4 linked regions of the Homo sapiens genome follow. The protein of the gene in region 2 interacts with the protein of the main gene of each other region in a pairwise test. Each region holds a gene or a part of one and is shown on either strand. Other genes may lie near its edges. The genes, in order: SLC10A1, CYB5R3, GAST and NXPE3.

The links.
Region 1: the proteins of CYB5R3 (region 2) and SLC10A1 interact in binary tests that used the Homo sapiens proteins (3 or more experiments, as listed by UniProt).
Region 3: the proteins of CYB5R3 (region 2) and GAST interact in binary tests that used the Homo sapiens proteins (3 or more experiments, as listed by UniProt).
Region 4: the proteins of CYB5R3 (region 2) and NXPE3 interact in binary tests that used the Homo sapiens proteins (3 or more experiments, as listed by UniProt).

Annotation. Positions count from the first base shown.
Region 1 is NC_000014.9:69,787,213-69,794,246, forward strand, and holds part of SLC10A1 (hepatic sodium/bile acid cotransporter), read right to left. Parts: intron 1-7,034. UniProt on the Homo sapiens protein: As a major transporter of conjugated bile salts from plasma into the hepatocyte, it plays a key role in the enterohepatic circulation of bile salts necessary for the solubilization and absorption of dietary fat and fat-soluble vitamins.
Region 2 is NC_000022.11:42,625,379-42,632,412, forward strand, and holds part of CYB5R3 (NADH-cytochrome b5 reductase 3), read right to left. Parts: intron 6,073-7,034; coding exon 6,000-6,072; intron 5,611-5,999; coding exon 5,504-5,610; intron 2,904-5,503; coding exon 2,774-2,903; intron 2,311-2,773; coding exon 2,227-2,310; intron 2,012-2,226; coding exon 1,926-2,011; intron 1-1,925. UniProt on the Homo sapiens protein: Catalyzes the reduction of two molecules of cytochrome b5 using NADH as the electron donor.
Region 3 is NC_000017.11:41,708,309-41,715,350, forward strand, and holds the start of GAST (gastrin preproprotein), read left to right. Parts: upstream 1-4,022; 5' UTR 4,023-4,079; intron 4,080-7,042. UniProt on the Homo sapiens protein: Gastrin stimulates the stomach mucosa to produce and secrete hydrochloric acid and the pancreas to secrete its digestive enzymes. It also stimulates smooth muscle contraction and increases blood circulation and water secretion in the stomach and intestine.
Region 4 is NC_000003.12:101,824,211-101,828,765, reverse strand, and holds the end of NXPE3 (NXPE family member 3 isoform 1 precursor), read right to left. Parts: 3' UTR 535-4,555; downstream 1-534.

The sequences.
Region 1 (7,034 bases), on a different chromosome or scaffold from region 2:
AATATGTCCTTCCAGCTCTAATATGTATCCTACTTGTCCAATTTCCTTTTCCATTTGGAATCTTATATATGTTAGTCCCAGGACCCTGTCTAGGGAGAGGCCCTCCAGAAAGGTCAACTGAGAAGGAAGCTGATAGGGCATCTCCTTAGATTTATGGACATTTACATTAACAATATATGGCTCTGACTTTTATTCCAGTGGGAAGATGGTTGGGAGGTGAGGGCTTGGCAAGATCTTAGGAAAACCACACTCAGTGTGTCCCTCCTCCTCCCCACAGCCCTACCCTCCATCTACACTTCTTTCATTATTTCTATAAAGATGGAATATGGCTTAAATATGCATGAAGAGCAGCCTATATCAAAGGTTCCAGAGCGTAGCCATCAAGAACAATAGGTAGGCATGTCATAAGGATAAGAGCTGTTAGAGGTGAGAAGAGTCCCTCAAAGAAAATTGTGAACTAGGTAATAGGAACTCCCCCACCCCCGTGAACACTTAAATACACACTTGAGCTTGTAAGAAATTAACACTCAATTTAAGTGTGGCATAGTGGCTCATGCCTATAATTCCAGCATTTAGGGAGGCCGAGGAGGGAGGATTGCTTGAAGCCAGGAGTTTGAGACCAGCCTGGGCAACAAAGTAAGACCCCTGTCTCTACACACAAACAAATGAACAAACAAACCAAAAACCACACACAAAAATTAGCCAGGTGTGGTGGTGTGCACCAGGAGTCCCAGCTACTTGGGAGGCTGAGGCAGGAGGATGGCTTGAGCCCAGAAGGTTGAGGTTACAGTGAGCTATGTTAGCGCCACTCCACTAAAAAAAAAGGTGCCCACGGACAAGAAACAAATGCAAAGTAGTGGGGGAACTCAAGCTGAAGCTTCATAGAGGGGTTCTGGAGGGGAGTGGGGTGTTAGTCTTGGCACTGTGGAGGCTTTAATGCCCAAGGAAGGGACCAGAATTGAGGTATTAGACCTGGGATGGGAGGAGCATTGAAACTGAGCAACCAATAAAAGGATCATGGGATGAGGGGAGGGGAACTTTCTAATTATATCATCAAATATGAAATCATGGTGGAAACAGTATTTAGAATATAAAAATAATAAAATACATATTTAAAAAACATGGAGAGGGGACTTTGGATTAGGCAATGGTTTCTTAGACATCTAAAGCACGAACAGCCAAAGAAAAAGGCAAGTCAGACTTCATTAATATTAAAAACTTGTGATTCAAAGGACACCATCAAGAAAGTGAAAAGCCAACAAGAGAATGGGAGGAAATATTTGCAAGTCATATATCTGATAAGGGTCTAATATTCAGAATATATATGAAGAACTCTTTTTTTTTTTTTTTGAGATGGAGTCTTGCTCTGTCGCCCAGGCTGGAGTGCAGTGGCGCAGTCTCGGCTCACTGCAAGCTCCGCCTCCTGGGTTCACGCTATTCTTCTGTCTCAGCCTCCCGAGTAGCTGGGACTACAGGCGCCTGCCACCACGCCCGGCTAATTTTTTTTGTATTTTTAGTAGAGATGGGGTTTCACCGTGTTAGCCAGGATAGTCTCGATCTCCTGACCTCGTGATCCACCCGCCTGGGCCTCCCAAAGTGCTGGGATTACAGGCGTGAGCCACCGCGCCCGGCCAATATATGAAGAACTCTTATAATGCAATAATAAAAAACAAGTAAAAAATGGGCCAAGGATTTGAATGAGATATTTTCCCAAAGAAGATATACAAATGGCTAATGAGCACATGAAAAGATGCTCAACATCATTACTTATTAGGAAAATGCAAATCAAAACCACTTTGAGATACCACTTTATATCTACTAGCATGGCTATAATTAAAAAGCTGGACAATAACAAGTGTTGGAGGGTATATGGAAAATTAGGAATCCTCATACACTGGTGGTGGGAAGTAAAATGGTGCTTTGGAAAATAGTTTGGCAGTTTCTAGAAAATTTAAACACAGAGTCACCATATAACCCAGCAATTCTACTCTTAGGTATATATCCCAAGGGAACAGAAAGCATGTTCACACAAAAACTTGCCTGTGAGCTTCCATAGACATTATTCATACTAGGGAACAAGTAGAAACAACCCATGTGTCCATCAGCTGAATGAATGGATGAGCAAAATGTATTATATCCATACAATGGGATATTATTCAATTACAAAAACAAATGAAGTATTGTGACATGCTATCACATGAATGAACCTTGAAAATATGCTAAGTGAAAGAAGTATAGATACAAAAGGTCACATATTGAATGCTTCCATTTATGTGAAATCCATAGAGACAGAAAGATTAGTGGTTGTCAAGGGTTGGAGCAGGAGAGAGAAATGGGGACTCCTGCTAAATGGGATGGAGTTCCTTTTTGGGGTATTGAAAATGTTCTGAAATTAGATAATGGTGATAGGTTCACAGGCTTGGAATTATGCTAAAAACCAAGGCATCGTACAATTTAAAGAATGGATTTTATGGTATGTGAATTATATCTCAATAAATAGTAATTAAAAACCATGCAGGGAGCAAATAAAGCAATTATTAAAGGGCAATTTATAGCCTAACATATTTATATTGAAAAAGAAGATTAAAAATTAATGAGTTAAGCACCTTAAGAGGTTAGAATGAGAAAAACCCAATAAAAAGAAAAGGAAGAAATTTTTTAAGTTTTGTAAATTGTTAGAATCAGTAAAACCAAAAATAGGGTTTTTTTTTTTTCTTTTTTTTTTTAAAGGCCAATTAAATAGGCACCTCTGGCAAGGCAGACCAGGGAAAAGAGAGATGGCACAAATTGATGAGGTTAGTGTGAAAAAGGGAACATAACTACAGAGAAAATGAAGATTTTAAAAAGTCATTAAGGACATTTTCATACTTTCATTTTTAACTTAAATGGACAATTTCATGGGAAATATAACCTACAAAACCAAGTCAATATGAAGCCGAAAACCTGATTCAACTTAGAATCATTTAAGACATTTAATAAGCAGTTCAAAACCTATCTTCTAGAACCCTACATGATTTATACTGTCTTACGGTAGTGTTCTACTAAACATGCAAAGTGCAGATTGTTGCAATATTATGCAAATCTGTCCAGATAATATAAAAAGGGGAAACATGCCCTAATTTATTGTATAAAGTTAATATGATCTTGGAACGAAAGCTGGAGAATGATATTACGAGAAAAGAAAATTGGGGACCACTCTTATTTATGAACATAGAAACAAAAATAATAAAATATTAGCAAATAAGTGTTTTAAAAAATACAATGAACAAGATGAGTAAGAATGATTTAACATTAGATAATCTATTAATACATATTACTATATTATTAAAGAAATGGTACAATTTTGTAGCTATAGAAAAGTCAACAAAATTTAATGTTCTTACATAATAAAAATTTAGTACACTAGCAACGGAATGAAAATTCCTTAACTTGAAAGGAAATCTATTAGAAAAAGTATATTAAACGTTAAACTTAATGGTAAATAGAGGGATTTTCTTTAACAAGAGGAATAAAGCAAAGATAGTCATTATTATTACCTGTTTTATAAATTATACTATATATAGGCCCTAGTAAGCACAGCAAAACAAGAAATAGAAAAAGTATAGGGATGGGAAAAGAAGAAATGAAACTTTCTTGTTTTGCCAATGATAGGATTGTCCACAGAAGAAATCTAAGTAATTTTCCATTATAACTGGTAAGTAAGAAAATGTATGAGGTTCTAAATACATTAGCATCAGTCAGTCAATCAATTGGGTCTGATATACTAGAAACAAATATATATATATTTTAAAAGACACCATTTATGATATTCACAAAACTAGAAAATACTTATACATCTAAAGGACATGTAAGATCTTTATGAAAGAAATTACAAACCTTTATAGAAAGGTATTAAAAAAGGCCTAAGTAAAAGAAAAGCTATATCATATTTATAGATGGGAAGATTCAATATTATAAAGATAGTCTCTCAATTTATATATAAATGTAATGCACATTTAATAAAACTTCCAGACTTATAATTTTTTTTGTAGACTTGAAAGGTGATACTGAAACTCAAGTGAAAGAGTAAAAGGCTAAGAATAGCTAACATGATTTTTTTTTTTTTTGAGACAGAGTCTCGCTCTGTCACCCAGGTTGGAGTGCAGTGGTGTGATCTTGGCTCACTGCAAGCTCTGCCTCCCGGGTTCACGCCATTCTCCTGCCTCAGCCTCTCAAGTAGCTGGGACTACAGGCGCCCGCCACCACGCCCAGCTAATTTTTTGTATTTTTAGGAGAGACGGGGTTTCACCGTGTTAGCCAGGATGGTTTCGATCTCCTGACCTCGTGATCGGCCAGCCTTGACCTCCCAAAGTGCTGGGATTACAGGCGTGAGCCACTGTGCCCGGCCCATGATTTTCAAGAACAAAGTAGGGGGACTTAACTTTCAGATAACAAAACTTATAAAATTGTAATTAAGAAAGTGTGGAACTGGTACAAGGGTAGCCACATAGACCCGTAGAAGAGAAGAGAGATCCAGACACAAGCCCTGCATTTATGAGAGAGATGTCATTACAAATACCTGGAGAAAAATTCACTCAACGTGGCTTGGAATCTTCTATTTGTATGGAAAAGATAAAATTAGTTCATGCCATACATAAAAATAAGTTCTACATTGATTGGAGCTCTCCATGTGAAAATCAAACATTTAAAACTTTTCAAAGAAAATACAGGGTAATATCTTTGTAACTTTGTAGACAGTAAATTTTTTTTTTTTTTTTGAGACAGGGTGTTGCTCTGTCGCCCAGGCTGGAGTGCAGTGGCATGATTTTGGCTCACTGCAACCTCTGCCTCCTGGGTTCAAGTGATTCTCATGCCTCAGCCTCCTGAGTAGCTGGGATTACAGGTGCACATCACCATGCCCAGCTAATTTTTTTGTATTTTTTAGTAGAGACGGGGTTTTGCCATGTTGGACAGGCTTGTAGATAGTAAAAGATTTCTTAAAGAAACCCCTAAAAAACATAAACCACAAAGGAAAAATATTGGCAAATTTGACTAAATTAACATAAGCAATCTATCAGACATTATTATCAAAGTGTAAAGACCAGCTCCAAACTGTGAATAGACTGTTGCAACATATATAAAACAATAACTTTAGAAATTAATTTTCAAAACCCACCCAAACCACAATCCCATAGAAAAACAGGCAAAGGACCCAATGTTTCCAGAAGAGGACACATGAATGGCCAACGCACACGTGGAAATGTGGTAGGCCTCCCATGAAATCAAATTTAAAACTACTGCGATCTGCTTCACTGTTTTCATTTGGAAAAAATTAAAAAGTCTGACAATTCCAAATATAGATGAAGGCACAGAGAAACAGGGATCTTCAGACACTGCTAGGGAACGTGTGAAGTGAACAATGACCTTGGAGACCTCTTAAAGATGTGTGACTCCCACGACCCAGCAGTCCTGCTTCAATTGCATATGCCCTCATGTGGGCAGAGGGACACACACAAGTCTGTTCACAGAAGCGAGACGTAAAATCCACATGAATCTGACAACAGGAGAATGGATAAATGCAAGCAAACTGCACAGCAGTTCAGATACATGAGGTAGCTATTTTCTTTACATGCCTATTTCTCAAAAAAAAAAAAAAAAAGCAAGCTGTTAGGTGATGTGGACAGTATAATACTGTTCGTACAAAATTAAAAGACGTAAATCCCGCAGTCTATCTTGTTTATGAATATATACGTATATAATAGTTGAAAAGGGTCGGTGGAAATGCTGAACACCAAATTCCCAGGGATGCTCCCTTTGGCAAGTGGTGGAGGGTAATGAGATTGGGAATAGGAATACAGGGGGTTTCAATGCTACTGTTGATCTTCTCTTAGGGAAAAGCCAAACACAACTTGTGTGTTTGTTCTGGTGACCTAGAGCAGAGGAATCATGCTTACTTTGGCTTGTGTGTCAGGAGTTTTGGAGTTTGGACTTGGTGTGCCTTGTCAGCTTGGGTATGCAGGAGCCATGTTCCCTGATCCCCAGGTACTTCCTCCACTTGCACAGGTCCTGGGGTCAGGTCAGGGACATCCATCTCCTAGCCTGCTGGCATCCGTGACTGTTGTGATCCTTGGTTTACCCCAAGGGACAGGGACGGGCAAGGACTTTTTCAGACTCTAGATTCCTGAGATTGTAGGCCTGGTTGCCTTTCAGGGGGAAAGGGGCACATTTGTTTTTTTTATTTTTCCCTCCTGCTTAAGTTCCAAGAGCACAGCATAGACCTTGCTTTTGGACATCTGTGTACCCCATTTAAGGGACTCGTTCGAGTGTCCGTCAATGCACAGATTGGAGGCAGAAGCTGAGGGAGCTGTGAGGGGCCTCAACACAGTCTCTATGAAGTGGAAAACTTCTGGGACCCCAGTGGCTTCCATCTTGTCCTGGTTGAGCTTCCTACATCATGGCTGGGAGACCTGTGGAAGTGCTTGGGTTGTGTCCAAGCCCATTGTCCCCATGGCCATTGGCTCTGGGCTCTGCTGTGAGTCCGATGGTGGCAGGGGGAGCAGATGAACTTGGGGCAGCAAGGATGGTCAAAAGAGGCCAGTTCCTGCTGGCATAGCACTCTCTTCTCTGTGCCTGACAAGCCATACTCACTTCAACTGTGAGGGCGTTTTCTCTTGCCTGTTTGTCACCTACATTTTTTGAAACTTGTCTAGTGGCCTTCCTTGAGGAGGGAGCTGCCGTCCCTGGCTGCATTGAGGGGTCTGCTTGGTGGCCTGGCCTCCTGGGATGGCAGGCTGTCCCCAGACTGACTCCACCTATGAGGCAGAGTGAGTGGAGGGAGACACAGTTTCCCACAAACTCTGGGAAACCTCTGGCAAGTCTCTGACCTCAGCCTCTTCATGTGTAAAATGGGATCTGTGTCTTACAATTCCTTCCAGTTCTAAATGGGATGTAGAGTATTGTGCTTATCTCAAACTGGGGCCTTTGGGCTACAGCTGGCCCTTTGACATGTATTGTTTGGTTTGCACATTTAAAAAAATGGAATGAGTTGCTGATTT
Region 2 (7,034 bases):
GCACCTGTAATCGCAGCTACTCAGGTAGCTGAGGCAGGACAATCGCTTGAACCCGGGAGGCGGAGGTTGCAGTGAGCCGAGATTCACGCCATTGCACTCCAGCCTGGGCAATAAGAGTGAAATTCCGTCTCAATTTTTTTAAAAAAAGTTATGTCTTCCTCTCTGAGCTAAAGTGTGTCTCATGCTTTAATCCTCACCACCATCCTTTGAGGTGGCCACCGCCGCGACCCACCTGACAGATGAACAGAGGGATGGAACCTTGGGGGGCTGCTACTCGAGGGTAGGGGGCTCCCAGCTCAAAACCAGGCACTGAGGTCACGGAGGAAGGTAGGAGAGGAAACGAGCAGCAATGACCCGACTGGCACGGTTCTCGGAGTGTAGCATGGGGACCCCTGGGGTTGGGACCCTGGAGAGGATCCCTGAGGCCAAATGGTTTTCATATAATACTGAGACACTGGTATTTTTCACTCTTCCTCTCTCAGTAGATGGGGCCACTTTCCAGAGGCTGCGTGACTGGCAACATCACACAGATGGGATGTAGAAACAAACACAGGAATCTAGCTGTCCTATGAAGCCAGACATTCCAAGGTTTGCAAAAACGTAAAACAGAATGATGTTTTCTAAAATAGTTTTTTAAAAATAAAAATAGGCTGGGTACTGTGGCTCACGCCTGTAATCCCAACACTTTGGGAGGCTGAGGCGGGTGGATCACCTGAGGTCAGGAGTTCGAGACCAGCCTGGCCAACATGGTAAAACCCCATCTCTACTAAAAATATAAAAATTAGCCGGGCATGGTGGCACACATCCTGTAATCCCAGCTACTCGGGAGGCTGAGGCAGGAGAATCACTTGAACCCGGGAGGCGGAGGTTGCAGTGAGCCAGGATTGTGCCATTGCACTCCAGCCTGAGGGACAAGAGCGAGACTTTGTATCAAAATAAATAAATAAATAAAACCCTGGTTTGCATCCTGGTTTCAGCACTTCCCACGAGACATGCACAGTCAAGCCCCTCCCGGAGCCTGTGTTCGGAGGTATGAGATGAGGCGACCACACTGCCCTCGCTACCAGCTGCAAAGATGGCCTGTACAGGTGACAGACGGTCTGACGGCCTCCACAGACTCTGAACCAGCACCACCAAGTCTCACTGCTGCCCTCTCTCCCTCCACACCAGCCAGCTTAGAATTTCTGGCTCTTTCTCCCCTGGGCCTGGCAAGGCCATCTTGGTTGGCCTTGCGGCAGTTTTCTGCAGCTGCGGGGAGGCAGGGTGGGGCAAGGACCCACATCCAAGGACCTCAGGCAAGCATCTTCTCCCCCAAATCTACGTCATCAGTCACAAAACACTAACCTGAAAAGACCTTGCAACAACCCAGTTTCATCAGCTCATTCTACAGATGAGGGAGTGAAGCTCAGAGAGGGAAAGTAGCTCGTCCAAGACCACACAGCAGGCCAGGGCGGGCAGGCAGGCAGTGGGCTCGTGGACAAGGATATGAATCAGGAGCCAGAGACACCAACATTCAAATCCTGCCCTGACACCCTGTAGCTCAGGGGCTTCGTGCAAATGTCTGGTCATTTGTAAGATGGGCCCCTCCATGTCCAGGCCAGCATTCTTCCCACTCTACCAGTGGGTTCCACACCGTGCTCATGGTGAAGGGAGTTCTGAGTTTTGGAGGAAGCAGCCAGGGGAGGGGGTGCTCAGGGAGCTCCCCGCAAGGCAGCCCCCTCAGCCAGACACAGGCGCTGCACCACAAAGCCTGCCCGCCGTGCTGCTGCCAAGGCCGCCAGTGCACAGAACATTCAGGGCCCCCCATCCCGGTCATCCCCAGAATCTCAGCAGAGCTGTGCAGACCCCTGGAACAGCACCTGACCAGGCCCGAAGTCCCCTCTCAGGGTAAGCTGAGTTTCCCCATCATGGGGATGCCCACTGACCTGGTTGGCAAAGAGCAGGTGGCACACAGTGTGGTCATCAGGGTCCTTCATGATGGCGCGGATCACCTGCAGCATCGGGGTGATGCCTGCAAAATAGCCGGCCGGGCCTCGCACGTGCTGAGCGAGGCCTGTTCACAGGCACCGCCCCGCCCAGGTGTACTGGGGTGGAGGGGCCAGGACCACTGGGCCTGGGCCCCTGACCTCTGGTAGCTCCCAGGCACTCAGAACCTGCGCCTCACCCACACCCCAACCCCACCCTTAACATGAGCCGCCGGACGCCTCAGTGGGGGGTTCCGTGTACCTGTCCCTCCCGCGATCATGCCCACAGACTTCACTGTCCTGATGATAGGGTTGGACTTTTTGTCAGGTCGGATGGCGAACTTCCCTGGGGAGAGAGAAGGGGTGAGGCCCGGCCATCAAACATGCCATGTGTGGTGGCTGGAGAGGCTGGAGAGGGGGCTGGAGAACCTGCCCCCACTGTGAGGTCCGAGGTAGAGGCAGCTGCCATTCTAACGCGAGCCATGAGGAAGGTGCAGGAGCAGTGGAGAGGCTGGGAACCCGGAGGCTCAGCTCTGTCCTCTTGCTTGCTTGTTTCAGATGCTGAGAAAGCCAAATAGAGGCTGGCAGTGGGTGAGACGTGGCCCCCAGGAGTGGCCTGTCTGCAACCCCTGTGCCAGCAACTTACCCCCTCTACAGCCAGGGAGACTCAGTTCCCAGAGAGGGACAGCTGGCCTGACGAGAGTCACCCATCCACACAGAGCCAGGGGCCTGCACCCTGCACCCAGCACGCCCAAGCTCTCCAATTCTCTGAGCCTGCCGTGTAACCAAGGGATTCCGACCCGAATCACCTTTGCCCTGGTAGACCAGCAGCCCACTGGGGCCCCGGAACTCAATGGTGTCTCCAATCTGCATGCTCTCCAGGTACTGAGACATCTTCCCTCCAGCGGGAAACTTGGGATGGGTGTCCTTGAAGTAAACCTGCAAGACACCCCCGCAGCCCTCAGTCCCCAGCTCCAGGTCTCAGGGGCGAGCTCTTGCCCACAGTGGGAGACAAGTGCCTCTTCTGCAGCTTCTTCTGAGGCCCACACATGGCCTTCTCCCGTGGAGCCCCATCCACCCAGCCGTCAAATCCTACCTGTCCTGCACCCCGTCCTTCACCCCGTCCTCCCAGGAGTCAGCCTCCACCTGACATATCCGGGGAAAGCAAACCACCAGCCTCGTGTACAAGGCCGACCAACTCCAGGGCTGGATGCACTCACATTTCACCAACTGTCTCTGGGGCCCCCTCCCAACGGGAGACACTGAACCCGTCAGCAAAGTCAAGGCTCTGGGAGGCCCACTAAGCCACACTCCTCCTGGTGGACACTCAGTCCCTTCCGTTTTGTGCTGTCGCTAAAAACCTCCCTCACTCTTGGGACTACTTCCTGCCCTGCACTCTCTAGGATTACTGTCTTGGGAAAGAGAAGGGCCTCAATCCGACACCTACAAAGAAATGGGGAGACAGAGGAGGAGCGGCTCACCCTGCCCAAGGAGTCTGATGGATGGAGAAGGGGAAGGTGGCTGGGGGAGGGACAGCGTGTACACAGTGCCTCAGGGAGGGGAGCCTGTTGTGGCTTCAGCACAGAGGGTGGCTATGGGGTGTGGAGGCAGAGGGGAGTGGAGGGCCACGGACAGGCAGGCAGAGCACACTGTCCTGGGCCCTGGGTGCCAGGCCAGGACTCTAACCTTTATCAAGGACCAAGGGAGCCAGCCAGGTCTCCAAGCCAGGAGAGGCCTGGTCACCTGTGAGTTTTTCATCCTCAATTTGAATCCTCCTAATAGCTTCTCCACATTTGGCCAGAGAGACTTCAACGTGAACAGATGCTTGAGCCCTCATCACCTCCTCTGTGCTTCTGGACAAAGCCCCAAACCTTACTGGGGCCTCCAAGGCCCCGTCTGGCCCCACTGACCTCTCCCACCCCTTGCCCCAACCCTCCAGCCACTTCAATCCTTGAGCCTGCTGCTGACTTCAGGGCCTTTGCACCTGAAGCTCCTTTTCTTCCTTCTTCACCTGGTCAGTGCCTACTCAGCCCCAGATCTCACCTTCACTGTCACCTGCTAGGGAGCCACTCTCACCAGCCAACCCCACCCATCCCTGGTGGCCCTTCTGGAAGCTCGGTCGCAGGTACCTGTCCCCTGCAGGGAGCACTGGCTTCCCCATGACTATGTGTCCAGTGTCCGTCCTCCAGCCAAAGACGGGCTCCTGAGGCCAGGCCTGGGCGCCCCAGCAAGGAAGGAGCCCGGGCCAGGGCCCTTCCCACCCTTCAGATCCAGTGCCTGCCCCCAGACCTGGCAAGGTAAGGGCCTCAGCTACGGCCCAGTAAGGGGGCTCCAGGGGTACCTGAGGGTGCTGGGCTGGGGAGGCTATAGGGCTTTGGCCTTGATTGGGGAGGGTCTCCAACACCCCACATACCCACTGGTCTAGGCTGCTTCTCACCCTCTGTTCTGCAGGAAAGCTTGTATTTCTTTTTTTTTGACTGGCTCTCATTCTATTGCCCAGGCTGGAGTACAGTAGCATGATCTTGGCTTACTGCAACCTCTGCCTCCCAGCTTCAAGTGATTCTCCTGCCTCAGCCTCCCAAGTAGCTGGGATTACAGGTGCGCACCACCATGCCCAGCTAATTTTTTTGTATTTTTAGTAGAGACGGGGTTTCTCCATGTCGGCCAGGCTGGTCTCTAACTCCTGACCTCAGGTGATCCACCCGCCTTGGCCTCCCAAAGTGGCTTACAGGTGTGAGCCACTGTGCCTGGCTGAAAGCTTGTATTTCTAATTTTCATAAAAACGTCCCTGCTGGGGCCGTCATGCTGCCTCTTACTTCCCACTCGGCATGTGTGTTTCAGGTTCCGGGCTGCTGCCCCTAACGCCTGCATCTTCTCCTGTGAACCTCCACCTCGAACCCCGCAGCAGACCCCAGAAAGCCCATCACCCCAGCTCCCAGACAACACCACACGAGCCCCTCACATGTTTCCCTAGCAGGCCTGAGGGACATTTCTTAGGGAAACGGGTAAGAACAGGGCCTGCGTGTCACAGAGGCCCGGCCGCTGACCACGGTGGAGTGGCTGCCTCACCCCGCACACTCGGGACCCAACTCCCAGGGATCTCCCAGCGTGAGAGCAGGGACGGGACTGCGCCGTCACACCTCGCAGCAGGGGCGTCTGTACCGCCAGCCGGCCTTCCTGGAGCCTCTGCTGCAGGTACCTGTCCTTGTTTGAAGGCACTTGCCCTGAACCCTGGCCCCTGTTCTCTGCCAAGACCCCCTTCTTTGGCTTTTGTTGGTAAAGATGACGTGCTATTTACTCAGAAACCAGGCACAAGGGAGCACTGGGTCTTTGGAGTCCGGGCTGCGGGGGGACATGGACTCGAGAGGGGCTCTAGAAGCCACTGCCCCTGCAAGCCCCTGAGGAAGTGGGGCAGCCATGACCGAGGCTGGGCTGCACAGGGCAGGAGCGGGAGACTTCCCTGTCCAGGGGGTCCACATGGGCTGTTGCCATGGCCACCCACCCACACCCCCTCCACAGTCATGACCCAGAGGCTTCACCTTGATGACCAGGTCCACGAAGCCCTTGTCATCATCGCTGGAGATGGGTGTATAGGGCCGGACGACCAGGTTTCCATCAATTCGAGCCGAGAGGTAGATGTGCTGGCCTGCAGGACAGAACGGGGTCACTCTGGGCCAGAGATCATCCTGCGGGTGACCCCTGGGTCTTGTCAACCCACTCCCCTGCACCCCACCCGGCATTCAAAGCCTGGCCTGGCGTCAGCTCCCACGGCCCCCTCCCACCCCTCCCGGGGATTCCCCTCACGTCCCAGCTTCCTGCCTCCATGCCTTCACTCCTGCTGGTGCCACTGCCAGGGACTCTGGGCCTTCCCACTCTCATTCCAACAGACTCGCCCTCAAAGGCCCAGGGCAGCTGTCACCTCCTCCTGAAGGCTTCCCTGCTCTCCCTGGTGGAAATGTAAAGCTTCCATCTCTCTGATCTAGTGCCCCAGCAGCCTGCCGGGCTCCGAATGGGCCCAGCAGGGGCGTGACTCACCGACAGGGAGGCCCAGGATGTGCTGGGGTGACGGCAGGGCAAAGCGGAAGCGCCGGGTGTCATGGCTGATGATCTGGAGAGAGGCCCAAAGCTGCTGAACGGTCCCCAGGGCAGAGGCCTCCCAGGGCGGCTCCCAGGCCTCGGAGCCCCCATCCCATTCCTCCTTTGTGTCCCCACCCTTCCCCAGTGCCTGCTTGTCCTTGTAAGACGTGACGCCGACGCCAAGCACAGATGCACACACATGCACGCTGCGTGTGAGGTGCTGAGGCCAGGCGCACGCTGGGTGTGTCTGTCCTGCTGGCCTAGAGGGGCCACAAACAAGGTGGCCAGAACAGGGAATGAACCCAGGGTCCCAAAGGGAGGATGCCAGACAGGACGGGGAGGGAGGAATCCATCTCTGCCATCAGCTCAAGCAGTGGCCTGAAGGGGCAGGAAGAACTTGAGGGCTGGATGGGCAAACTGGGGCAGAGCTAGACAAGGCTGCACGTGCCCAGGCCTGCATCCCAAGAGAGGGGCTGCAGAAGCCACTGCACCTGAGAGCCCCTTGGGAAATGGGGCAGCCAGGACTGAGGTGGGCTTCACAGGGCAGAAAGTGGGAGCCTTCCCTGCCCAGGAACTCCAAGAGCCCAAAGCCAGGCTTCCACCCTGCACAGGGTGGGCACCCAGGGCATGGTCAGTGGCTGGGACAGTGGCAGAGGAGGAGGGGGGCTGGCTAAGAGCCAGATTGGGCCAGGGAAGGAGCTGAGACTAAAACCCCTGAGGTCTTGTTAAGTGGGTCTTACGCTCAGGCCAGGGACGATCACATAATCAGTTCCAGTCGGAGCTGGAACCAAACCCAGCGTCCTGAGGGTGCACTCCCTGTGGGGTCCCCAGTACCCAGCATGGCCAGGAGAGGGAGTGTGAAGAAGCCATGCGGAAGGTCGGCGCTGCAGAGGCGCTTACATCCAAACGTGGCAAAGTCCACATGTGGATGGTGTCATCACTTAGAGGGGGACAACAGACCTCTCCAACAGGGCAGGACATCACAGATGCCCA
Region 3 (7,042 bases), on a different chromosome or scaffold from region 2:
GTGATCCTCCTGCCTCAGCCTCCAGAGTAGCTGGGACTACAGGCATGCACCACTGCACTTGGCATAAGCTCTCTATTTTAAAGCCAGTAACCTTAATCACACCTGCAACGTCTCTTTTGTTATGTAATCACATATTCACAGGTTCCAAGGATTGGGGCAGGAACATCTTTGGGGACATGATTGTTCTGCCTGCCACATTCCTACTGGGAGGATAGAGACCTGAGTTTCAGACCCACCTCTCCTTTTTGGTGTGTGGACTCAGGATGGGGATTACTTCACCTGTCTAAGCCTTAGTTTCTACTTCTTTTTTTTTTTTTTTTTTTTTTTTGAGACAGCGTCTCACTCTGTCTCCCAAGTACAGTGGCACAATCATGGCTCACTGCAACCTCACCTCCCCGGCTCAAGCAATCCTCCCACCTCAGCCTCCCAAATAGCTGGGACCACAGCCACGCACCACCACACCCAGCTAATTTTTGTATTTTTTGTAGAGATGGGGTTTTGCCATGTTGCCCAGGCTGGTCTTCAACTGTTGGGCTCAAGTAATCTGCCGGCCTCGGCCTCCCCAGGTGCTGGGATTACAGGCGTAAGCCCCCGTACCCATCAGTTTCTTCTGAAGAAGGGGTTCACACTAGCACTTAGGTCCTAGGATCATGGTGAAGAGTGATTGCATTCATTCATGCTAAGAGCTTATCAGTTCCTGGTACACGGCATTGTTATCGTTGTGATGACAGGGGCAGGGCCCACACACCTGCACCCTCGAGGGGGACGGAGATGGGTCCCAAGGTCTGGGATCTGGTCTTCAATTTGGTAGGCCCAGAAATTGAATTTTCTGCTCACCCAGCTAGTCGGTGTTAGAGCCATGATTCAAACCCTGGCCTCACCAGTTCCAAAACCCCCTGTACACCAGGAGGTCCAGCTTCCATAGACTCTATCCCTGCTGCCTCTTTCAGTGGCAGTTGGGCTGAGGTCCCTCTGAGTCACAGCTGGCAGGAGGGAAACCCTTGGATTCACAGAGTGATATGCTTAGGGAATTACCCTCCTTTAAGCCTTGGGGAAGGAGAACTCCCCCAAGTGTATAAAGCGTGTGCACAGACCTTGTCACCTCTTCCCTTCACTGCAGCCCTATGAGGTACAAATGAATGATTCCTATTTCCAAATGTGGTTAATTGAGACCCAGAGAGGATGGGGGAGAAGACGCAAAATGGATTAAATACCTGCGATATTCTCTTTTGTTTGTCTGTTTGTTTGAGACAGTCTCACTGTGTCACCCAGGCTGGAGTGCAATGGCACAATCTTGGCTCACTCCAACCTCCACTTCCTGGGTTCAAGCAATTCTCGTGCCTCAGCCTCCCAAGTAGCTGGGATTACAGGCATGTGCCACCACGCCCAGCTAATTTTTGTATTTTTAGTAGAAACGGGGTTTCACCATGTTGTTCAGGCTGGTCTCGAACTCCTGACCTCAGGTGATCTGCTTGCCTTGGCCTCCCAAAGTGCTGGGATCACAGGCATGAGCCACCGCACCCGGCCAAATATCTGCAATGTTTTGAGCACCGTGCAGGGCGCTTTATGTACATCACCTTCACGAGACCCTCCTCCCCAAGTTACTTTCCTCATTTCCTAGAGGAGAAAACAGCTCAGAGAAGGAGAGAAATATGCTCAAAGCTCAACAGCTGGAAAAAGACAGGACCAGGAAACCCTTCCTTTTCCATCAGACGAGGTCCCCTCATGAGGAGAACGTGCAGTCCGTGACTGGGGAGCTCCTCAGGGTCAAGGATGCTCATCTCTGAATGCAACCCTTCCCCTGCAGACCTGGCAGGGTCTGCAAATAGTGACATTCTTTTTTTTTTTTTTTTTTTTTTTTTGAGACAGAGTCTCGCTCTGTCACCAGGCTGGAGTGCAATGGCATGATCTCAGCTCACTGCAACCTCTCTGTGCCTCCCAGGTTCAAGCGATTCTCCTGCCTCAGTCTCCCGAGTAGCTGGGATTACAGGCGCCCGCCACCATGCCCAGCTAATTTTTGTATTTTTAGTAGAGTCAAGGTTTCACCATGTTGGCCAGGATGGTCTCGATCTCTTGACTTCGTGATCCACCTGCCTCAGCCTCCCAAAGTGCTGGGATTACAGGAGTGAGCCACCAAGCCTGGCCAAATAGTGACATTCTAACCATTGCCTATGGAATAGGAGACATGCTTCTATTTGTTGAAATTGTCATCCCTCATGTAACCAGCCTGGGGAAGAACATTCAAGGGGGCATAACCCCCTCCATGGGCACAAACTGAGTCTTGGGCTCTGGTACAACCAGGGTTCTACTGAAAACTTATCATTTCCCATTAGTGTTACCATAGCAACACGAATGTCTTCATTCATTCCCCTAGTGTATGAACAGAGCTACACTCACCCCACCTGTTCTCCCAAGCCCCCTCAAAGTCCTTTCATCTCTGAGATTCTGTGATTCAATTAATTATCACCAATGCCTGCACTGCTTTTTGTCGTTTTCATTTATTCCATCTGCTGAGTCACCGTGTCCTGCTCTAGATGAGAGTGGTTATTCACAACGGTTATTCAGCCGTCAGTTGCCATGGACACCGCACAGCCTGCTTCCTTCATCACCCATTAATTCTCAGCAAGGCTGGCTGTAAGCATGGGTACCACTGCAGTTACCCAATACCCAAGGGGATCAAACTCTCCCAGAAAAGGTGGGGGCCCAATGACGCATGAACAGGAGCAAAATCTCTGCTCTCAACAGTGGAAAAGTAAAAAACAGCCTACGGCTCATTACATCTGGTCAAACCATGTGGAGGCAGCAGTTTATCAAATAAGTCAACAAGGTACCATTTTGTTTTCTGGTCCATCTTTGGCAAATGCTTTAGTCTGTTTGCTAACCATTTGAAGGTATATTTTGATACTGAAAAGTTGTTGGCTGGGCATGGTGGCTCACGTCTGTAATCCCAGAACTTTGGCAGACTAAGCTGGGCCGATCATGAGGTCAGGAGTTCGAGACCAGCCCGCCCAACACGATGAAACCCCATCTCTACTAAAAATACAAAAAATTAGCCAGGCGTGGGGGCGTGCGCCTGTAATCCCAGCTACTAGGGAGGTTGAGGCAGAAGAATCGCTTGAACCCAGGAGGCGGAGGTTCCAGTGAGCCGAGATCACACCACTGCACTCCTGCACTCCAGCCTGGTGACAGAACTAGACTTTGTCTCAAAAAAAAAAAAAAGTTGTTATGCAGATTACTAGCTCCCCTTGAAAGCAAAATGAAGGAGGCTTCAAAGGCAGGACCCTCCAGGAATTGGTTCTGCATAGGGGGTTTGCAAGTGGTGGTGCATGGGCAGCTGACCTAGAAGACACGGGGCAGCTACAAGCCAAACCCAGCCCAGCACAGAGGGCCTAAGGAGAAGAAGGCACCAAGGGTGTTCCATGGTAGGGGGAGGGTGAAAGGACTTCAGAGGTGACCAGGATGTGAGCCACTAGAAGGAGAGAACAGGGCCATCAGCCCACAACCCATTGCTCCTGGTAACACGTTATGTTTGCAGAGTCCAGTGGAGGGGACGGGGAATCAATACATCACCCCACATTCACACGCTTGCCAAACATCAGTGGATGGCGAAATCCACTTTCCCTGAATCTAAGCCCATCGGGTTCACTCCCTCACCTACCACCACCCACAAAGGTCCCTATGTAGTTCGAGAGATAAGTGCCAGGCCTCTGACCCCCAGGATATGGTGGGAAGCATTGCTCCTGACCCAGGGAGCTTGGTTCCTGCCCCTCAGGTACAGCTGGAGAGCTGCCGCCACCCCGCTCCAGCCCCTCACCATGAAGGTCAACTCCCCTATCCTTCCCCCACATCCTGGATGACTGACTGACACTAAATGAAAGGGCGGGGCAGGGTGATGGGCTGTACCTGTGCCCCACCCCATTCCTCTCGCCTGGACTCATATGGCAGGGTAGGGGCGGGGTGGGGGGACAGTTGGGAGGGACCTTGAGGGCTTTATAAGGCAGGCCTGGAGCATCAAGCAGAGCAGAGACCTGAGAGGCACCAGGCCCAGCCGTGGCACCACACACCTCCCAGCTCTGCAGGTGAGAAAACCCAGGAGGAGAGGGGAGAGGCTAGGAAGTGGGTTGACAGGTCCTCTCCCCCATCAAGGTACCAGGCCACTGGCCAGAGTCTGGGGCTCACCCCTTGGGGTCTCCAGAGCTGGGACCCTTTCTTTATCCCAGGATGGAACTAGGTCTTGGCTCCAGTACCTACCCTGGTATTCCCAACCTTGCCTTCCACCTGCCCTTCTGCCGCAGCCGGGGCCCTGCCCTTAGCCTATCCCTTCACACTCTTCCCAGCCCTGGGAGGTGAGGAGGACTGGGGTTCTTCTCCTTTCTCTCAGACAAGAAAACTGAGGCCCAGAGGCAAGATGTGACTTGCCCAAAGTCACAGGGATTATTAGGCAAGGCTGGGATAGGAATCCACAGCTCCTGGATCCCACTTCAAGCCCTTTCCTAGACCAGTGCCATCCAAAAGAACGTCCTATGATGCAGGAAATGGTCTTCATCTGCACTGTTCAATATGGTAGCCACTAGCCACGTGTGCGCTTGAAATGGGGTTAGTGTAAGGAAGTTTTTGTTGTTGTTGTTGTTTGTTTTTTTATATAGAGTCTCGCCGTGTCACCCAGGCTGGAGTGCAGTGACATGCAACCTCTGCCTCCCAGGTTCAAGCAATTCTCCTGACTCAGCCTCCCGAGTAGCCGGGATTACAGGCGCCTGCCACAACACCCAGCTAATTTTTCATATTTTTGGTAGAGACAGAGTTTCACCATGTTGGCCAGGCTGGTCACAAACTCCTGACCTCAAGTGATCCAACCCCCTCAGCCTCCCAAAGTGCTGGGATTACAGGCGTGAGCCACTGCACCTGACCATAATTTTTTAATTTAATTAATTTAAATGTAAAGAGCCACATGTGGCTGGTGGCTATAGCACTGAACAACACATGTGGTTAGCATCTGACAATACAGCTCCAGATCACTGATTTTTCAAACATTTCTTCAGCAGCAGAATTCTTTTCTTCCAAAGAAAACCTAACAGAAAACCTGATTATGAAAAACTTAATGGCCAGGCACCGTGGCTCATGCCTGTGATCACAACACTTTGGGAGGCTGAAGCAAGCAGATTGCTTGAGCTCAGGAGTTCCAGACCAGCCTGGGCAACATAGTGAGACCTCATCTCTACTAAAAATAAAAACAAAAAAATTAGCTGGGCATAGTAGTGCACACTTGTAGTCCCAACTACTCAGGAGGCTGAGGTGGGAGGATCTCTTGAGCCCAAGAGGTCGAGGCTGCAGCGAGTCAGGATCACGCCAGCCACTGCATTCCAGCCTGGGAGACAGAGCAAGATTCTGTCTCACAAAAAGAAAAGAAAAAAAGAAAAACTTAAAAGCAGTACAGTATTTTATTAATACAAATGTATTCTGACAAGAGAAAATTTTTATCATTTTCTTATGATAAAGCCAATCAGAATAGTGAGACCAAAAGCATACAAAAATAGTGAGTCCAGGGAATAGATGAGCATTTGAATTTTATGTTTGTTTGAGATTCCAGTTTAGTTCTGTATTATGTTTTCCCCAAACTTGATTCACCCTGATACATAATTGCTAATGGTGACAGCTTAATTTTTTCTTAACTGCTTCATTATAATCACAGGATATTCCTCAGTTAAGCAAAAATGACAGGAGAACCTTTCCTCTCAGGGCTGCACAAAAATCAGTGTGAGCTGGCCAAGCATTGAATGTGCTGCAGTCTCCAAAGTGATAACATGCGGTCTGTAACACAGCTGGATGTCCATGTTCCTTTGGTATTACTATTTAAAAGTTTCACTTTTTGTTTTTGTTTTTTTGAGACAGGGTCTCACTCTGTCGCCCAGGCTGGAGAGCAGTGGTGCAATCTCGGCTCACTGCAACCTCCACCTCCCCGGTTCAAGCGATCCTCCCACCTCGGCCTCCCAAGTAGCTGGGAATACAGGTGCATGCCACCATGCCTGGCTAATTTTTGTATTTTTTGTAGAGATGGGGTTTCAGTATGTTGCCCAGGCTGGTCTCAAACTTGTGGGCTCAAGGGATCCATCCTCCTCAGCCTCCCAAAGTGCTGGGATTACCATGCCTGGCCTAAAAAGTTCACTTTAAATAACAAGTCTTGGGCTGAGCACAGTGGCTCACATCTGTAATCGCAGCACTTTGGGAGGCTGAGGCGGGAGGATTGCTTGAGCCCAAGAGTTCAAGACTAGCTTGGGCAACATGGTGAAACCCTGTTTCTACAAAAAATACAAAAAAAATTAGCTGGACGTGGTGGTGCAAGCCTGTAGTCCCAGCTCTTCTGGAGGCTGAGGTGGGAGGATCACCTGAGCCCAGGAGGTAGAGGCTGCAGTGAGCAGTGATTGCACTACTGCACTGCAGCCTGGGCGACAGAGTGAGACCCTGTCTCAATAAATAAATAAATTACATTACTTAAACAGCTACAGAACCACTAACATGGCCTCAAATTCTGCAGAACAGAACCTAGGGAAACCATTGCCCTAGGATTTGACTTTCTCCAATAGAAGCAGTGGCTGTAATCGGGGTAGGTAAAGAGAAAAAACACAAGACTTCGGGGCTGGTGTGGAACTGGCAGAAACTGGAGAACTGATCTGAAGAAATAGTCCACAACTCCACACAGAATTGCAGACTCACCCGGGTGCGGTGGCTCATGCCTGTAATCCCAGCATTTGGGAGGCCGAGGCGGGTGGATCACCTGAGGTCAGGAGTTCGAGACCAGCCTGGCCAACATGGTGAAACCCCATCTCTACTAAAAATTACAAAAATTAGCCAGGCATGGTGGCACGTGCCTATAGTCACAGATATTCTGGAGGCTGAGGCAGGAGAATCACTTGAACCCGGGAGGCGGAGGTTATAGTGAGCCGAGATCCCACCACTGCACTCCAGCCTGGGCAACAAGAGTGAAACTCTGTCTAAAAAAAAAAAAAAGAAAGAATTGCACACTCATCAGCAGGTAGAGGCCTGG
Region 4 (4,555 bases), on a different chromosome or scaffold from region 2:
ATATACAGATTATCATGAATCTGGGGGTCCAGCCAAATCATCAAATTTCAGGTTTTCCTCATTCATAAAATGGCCATTCATACATTTTAATTTTACAGCTGTAAGAATGAATGAGGGCATGCTATAAAGTATTTCAATTTACTCTGATATATTTTCCCATATAGTTTCATGCCTACGGTTGGTGGGAAAGTACTCCTCTAAACCCACACATCAAATCTCCTGGGAGACTTCTGCCTCGGGATATCATAGTTCTAGGTCACTGACAGAAGATAGTGTTACATTAGATTTATGATACTTCATCACCCATTCTATCGATCTCCTCCATTAGTATCTCAGTCCTTCCTGGGCCTTTAAAGCAAACAGACATGATTCTTGCTATTACTAAACTACAAAAACATCCCAGATTTTCTTTCTCCAAAAAACTATCCCCCAATATTTTGCCCCAAAGCAAGTATGGCTACTCAAACATAGGAGAGTGACTCCAAAGTTAAGAATCTGACTATGGGAATAGGAAAGAAAAAGAAAAAAAAAATCTTACCATTTAAGATATTTTAATAAAATATCAGATAATAAAAATATACCTTTGTGTTTGAAGAGTCAAGTCACACAAATACGTAAGAGCAAATCAATTGTTTCCAGCTGTAATCAGCGATAATAACCCAAGTACGTGACAGCATGAGAAAGACGATCAGTTTCCTTTTGAGGTTACATGATAAGCAGCAGCTAAGCAGCCTTTTTCTCTAAGAACTCGCCGTCTGACCTCGTGGCAAGAGGAGGCCAGCCCCTCTCACTGGCGCCCTTTATAGCGTTCGCTTTCAGTTCTCCACTCTAGTGAGGACGGGGGCGGGGGAAGCTAAGAGCCTGTTTTCTAAAATGCAGAATACGGTCATCCTCTCTTTCGAACCGGGTTGCGTGGGCACTGAGGAGGGCCAGAGGAGGCAGGGAGGGGGCAGCGAGGCCTAGATTTGTGGATTTTTTTTCTGCACACTGGAAATTCCCAGACCAAAAAGGTACCGACCCGAGTCCCGGACATTCCCCTCGAGGGCCGGCTCCAAGACCTGGACTGGAGCCGCAGGGAGGAATCAGAGGCAACATCTACAAACAAAACTTTTTCCTTAAAGACGTCCTTTTAAAATGTCCTAGTGAATCTCCTGATGGGCATTAGAGTTGCCTTCTCATTAGATTCACCTCATCTTATTTCGCTTTTTCTGTGTGGCCCCTAAACGTGAGGGTGCAGTGGGCGGGTGGAGGGAGTTACCTTTTACCATATAGCTTTTACAATACGGCAATCAAAAAGTAGTATCGCAATCATGTGCCTTCACTGACTAATTAAAGGACAAGAAATCTGTGACATAAATAAAGCAATGGTCCTGTAACATGAAGATCACTTTATTTTCAAGGAGTAAGGGGAATGGTAATGGGGTAGATTTAACAGCAAATGAACCACTGCACAAAACTGAAAGGATTTCTCCTATGACATTTAGTTTCACTTCTTTTCCATTTAGGACACTAGCTGCTGTAATCTCGGTACTACTTTTTTTTAAGTTATCTTCCCCAAGCAGTGTTACAATCCAGCTGGAATGGGCATTAGATATACACATCATTAGACTCTTAAAAAGAGGCCCGATGGCCTCTCATTTAACCAGAATATTAAAAAAGAAAATATATGTACACACATATAAATATATTTAAGTTCACACTTTTTTATTTTTTATTTATTTATTTATTTATTGAGACAGAGTTTCACTCTCGTTGCCCAGGCTAGAGTGCAATGGCATGATCTCGGCTCACTGCAACCTCCACCTCCCGGGTTCAAGCGATTCTCCCACCTCAGCCTCCTGAGTAGCTGGGATGACAGGCATGTGCCACCACACCTGGCTATTTTTGTATTTTTAGTAGAGATGGGGTTTCATCATATTGGTCAGGCTGGTCTTGAACTCTTGACCTCAGGTGATCCGCCCACCTCGGCCTCCCAAAGTGCTGGGATTACAGGCATGAGCCACTATGCCCGGCCCACATTTTTTTAAAAAGTTAAAATGTAAAAGCACTTTTAAGAGACAAGTTAGACAGAAGGTGGTGGAGTACATTTTCTGCTCTCCTAGCTTCTGTGTCCTTTAAACTCCTGCCCTCAACCATCCTCTTATCGTCCACCACCTCCATTCCCCTAGGATTCCCAGGTCCCCTTAGCACTCAGGGGCTGTGGTCTCACCTTCAAATGAAAAACAACAACTTCAAAATTTTATTTATTGCACACTGAGGTGTCAAGAATCCTAAGTACACTAATACTACATTGTAGACATAAACCAGGTAGAATAATGCTTAACACAAGAAAATAAATACACTTGAAGTGGAATTTCTGGCATTAGTGACTAGCTGATGTTAAAAAGCTGAATTTACCCAGAATCCACAGAGATAATGCTGAGCAGTTTTTTAGAAAGTTGGGGAGGCTTATTTCTGTTGTTTCCCTTGGGTGTTTATTTCCCTGTACCTCTCTCAGTCATCACTATTTCCTTGAACAGGGTCCAGAAACAGACTCATTTCTGGCATGTAACACATGAATATATAAAGGCGTACCATATTTATTCTTGTCAAGTACCCTGATTTACCAATCTGCAAACTAAGTTTTCAGATTGATAAATGTGAAACTGGATTCAGTTATTAAACTGGATCAAGTTTCAATCTGAAACTTAATAACTGAATCCAGGAAGTGTCAGTTAAATGGTCTTAATTAAAATGATAGTTGTTCAGAATGGCAAAATGAATCATACTGGAACACCAAAGGTCTGTTTTGCATTCGCTGAAGAAAGGTTACTTTTAGTAGGATAATTCTATAAAATGTAACTTGCATAGAAAGGCTTTATTATGGGTTCTGTCTGTCACAAATAGCATCAAATCAATCATCTCAGTTCTGGAATATGAGATTCACTACATTAAATTAATACTTTCATTCCAAAATAGAAATTCATATTTTAAACCACTGAAATTGATATAAACCACTGCTTTAATATTGTAAACCTAAATGTCCAACTATAATGACCAACTTATCTAATAATGAAAACTGCAGTAGCAGAACTATTAAGCAGATCTTTATAATTAACTTATGAAGACTATTTAACATAGAAAAATATTTATATGTAAAAAACACAGACCCAAATTACATATTCTCTATAAGTATATGGTTAAAAAACCTGCAAGAAAATATACCTAAATGCTAATGTTCATTGCATTCAGATGATAGAATTATGGATTTTATCCATAGATTTTTCTTCTAGATTTTATAGTTTTTAAAAATTATGATGCCCCTTATATTTATATTGGGAAATATACATTTAAACAAACTATTATTTGGCTACCATGCTAATATTCACAACCATGTGGCACTAGCCTAAAATAAACTTTTCAGAAGAAACTAAATTATTCTATCTAAATATTCTGGGAAACGTTTAAGTGATATTGGAATCTCTATCAAAATTTCCACACCAGAGTGAAGAAAGACAAATTAGATGTGGGATGAAAGTTGTTCTCACTGATAAGTGAGAGCTAAATGATGAGAACACATGGACACATAAAGGGCAACAACACACACTGGGGTCTATTGGAGGGTGGAGGGTAGGAGGAGGGAGAGGATCAGGAAAAATTACTAATGGGTACTAGGCTTAACACCTGGGTGATGAAATCATCTATACAACAAACCCCCATGACGTAAGTTTACCTATGAAACAAACTGGCACATGTACCCCTGAACTTAAAAGTTGTTAAAAAAAAAATTTTTTTAAGAGAGATGAAAGTGACTCAAGAAGCTGTGTCACCAAATCTTTGAGAGCTATGTCACCAAATCAAAAAATAACAGAAAACCAGACAAGATCATAAGAAATCATTTGCACAATCAAGTGGCATCATTCCAAACCACTGGAGGAGCAATGCCCGCTTTCTTTTTAAAATTCTCCTGGGAAAATTACTCCTCAGCCTCCTTTATAAATCCTTGAGGAAATGTCAAGTTCTTTCACGACAAGAAAAACTCTCAGCTGGGCACAGTGGCTCACACCTGTAATCCCAGCACTTTGGGAAGCTGAGGTGGGCAGATGCTTGAGCTCAGGAGTTTAAGACCAGCCTGGACAACATGGCAAAATGTAGTCTCTACAAAAAGATACAAAAATTAGCTGGGCATGGTGGTACATACCTGTAGTCCCAGCTACTCAGGAGGCTGAGGCAGAAGGATCCCTTGAGCCCAGGAAGTCAAGGCTGCAGTGAGCCATATCATGCCACTGCACTCCAGCCTGGGCAAAAGAGCAAGACCCTGTCTCAAAAACAAATAAATAAATACAAACGCTTCTTTACGAAAGTCTCACAAGTTTAGCTGAAAAGAGATATGGACTCTCACATACCTTATTTCAGATCTAAACATGAGTTCCTCATCTATAAAATGGAGCTAATATCACCAATACTATTGGATCATGAACAGAATTAAACCAGTTATTGGTAAATCCCCCAAAATAATAAACAAGCCATGTTTATTCCCTCATTCTATCTTACCTCTTCTCTTAGTGTTTCTCAC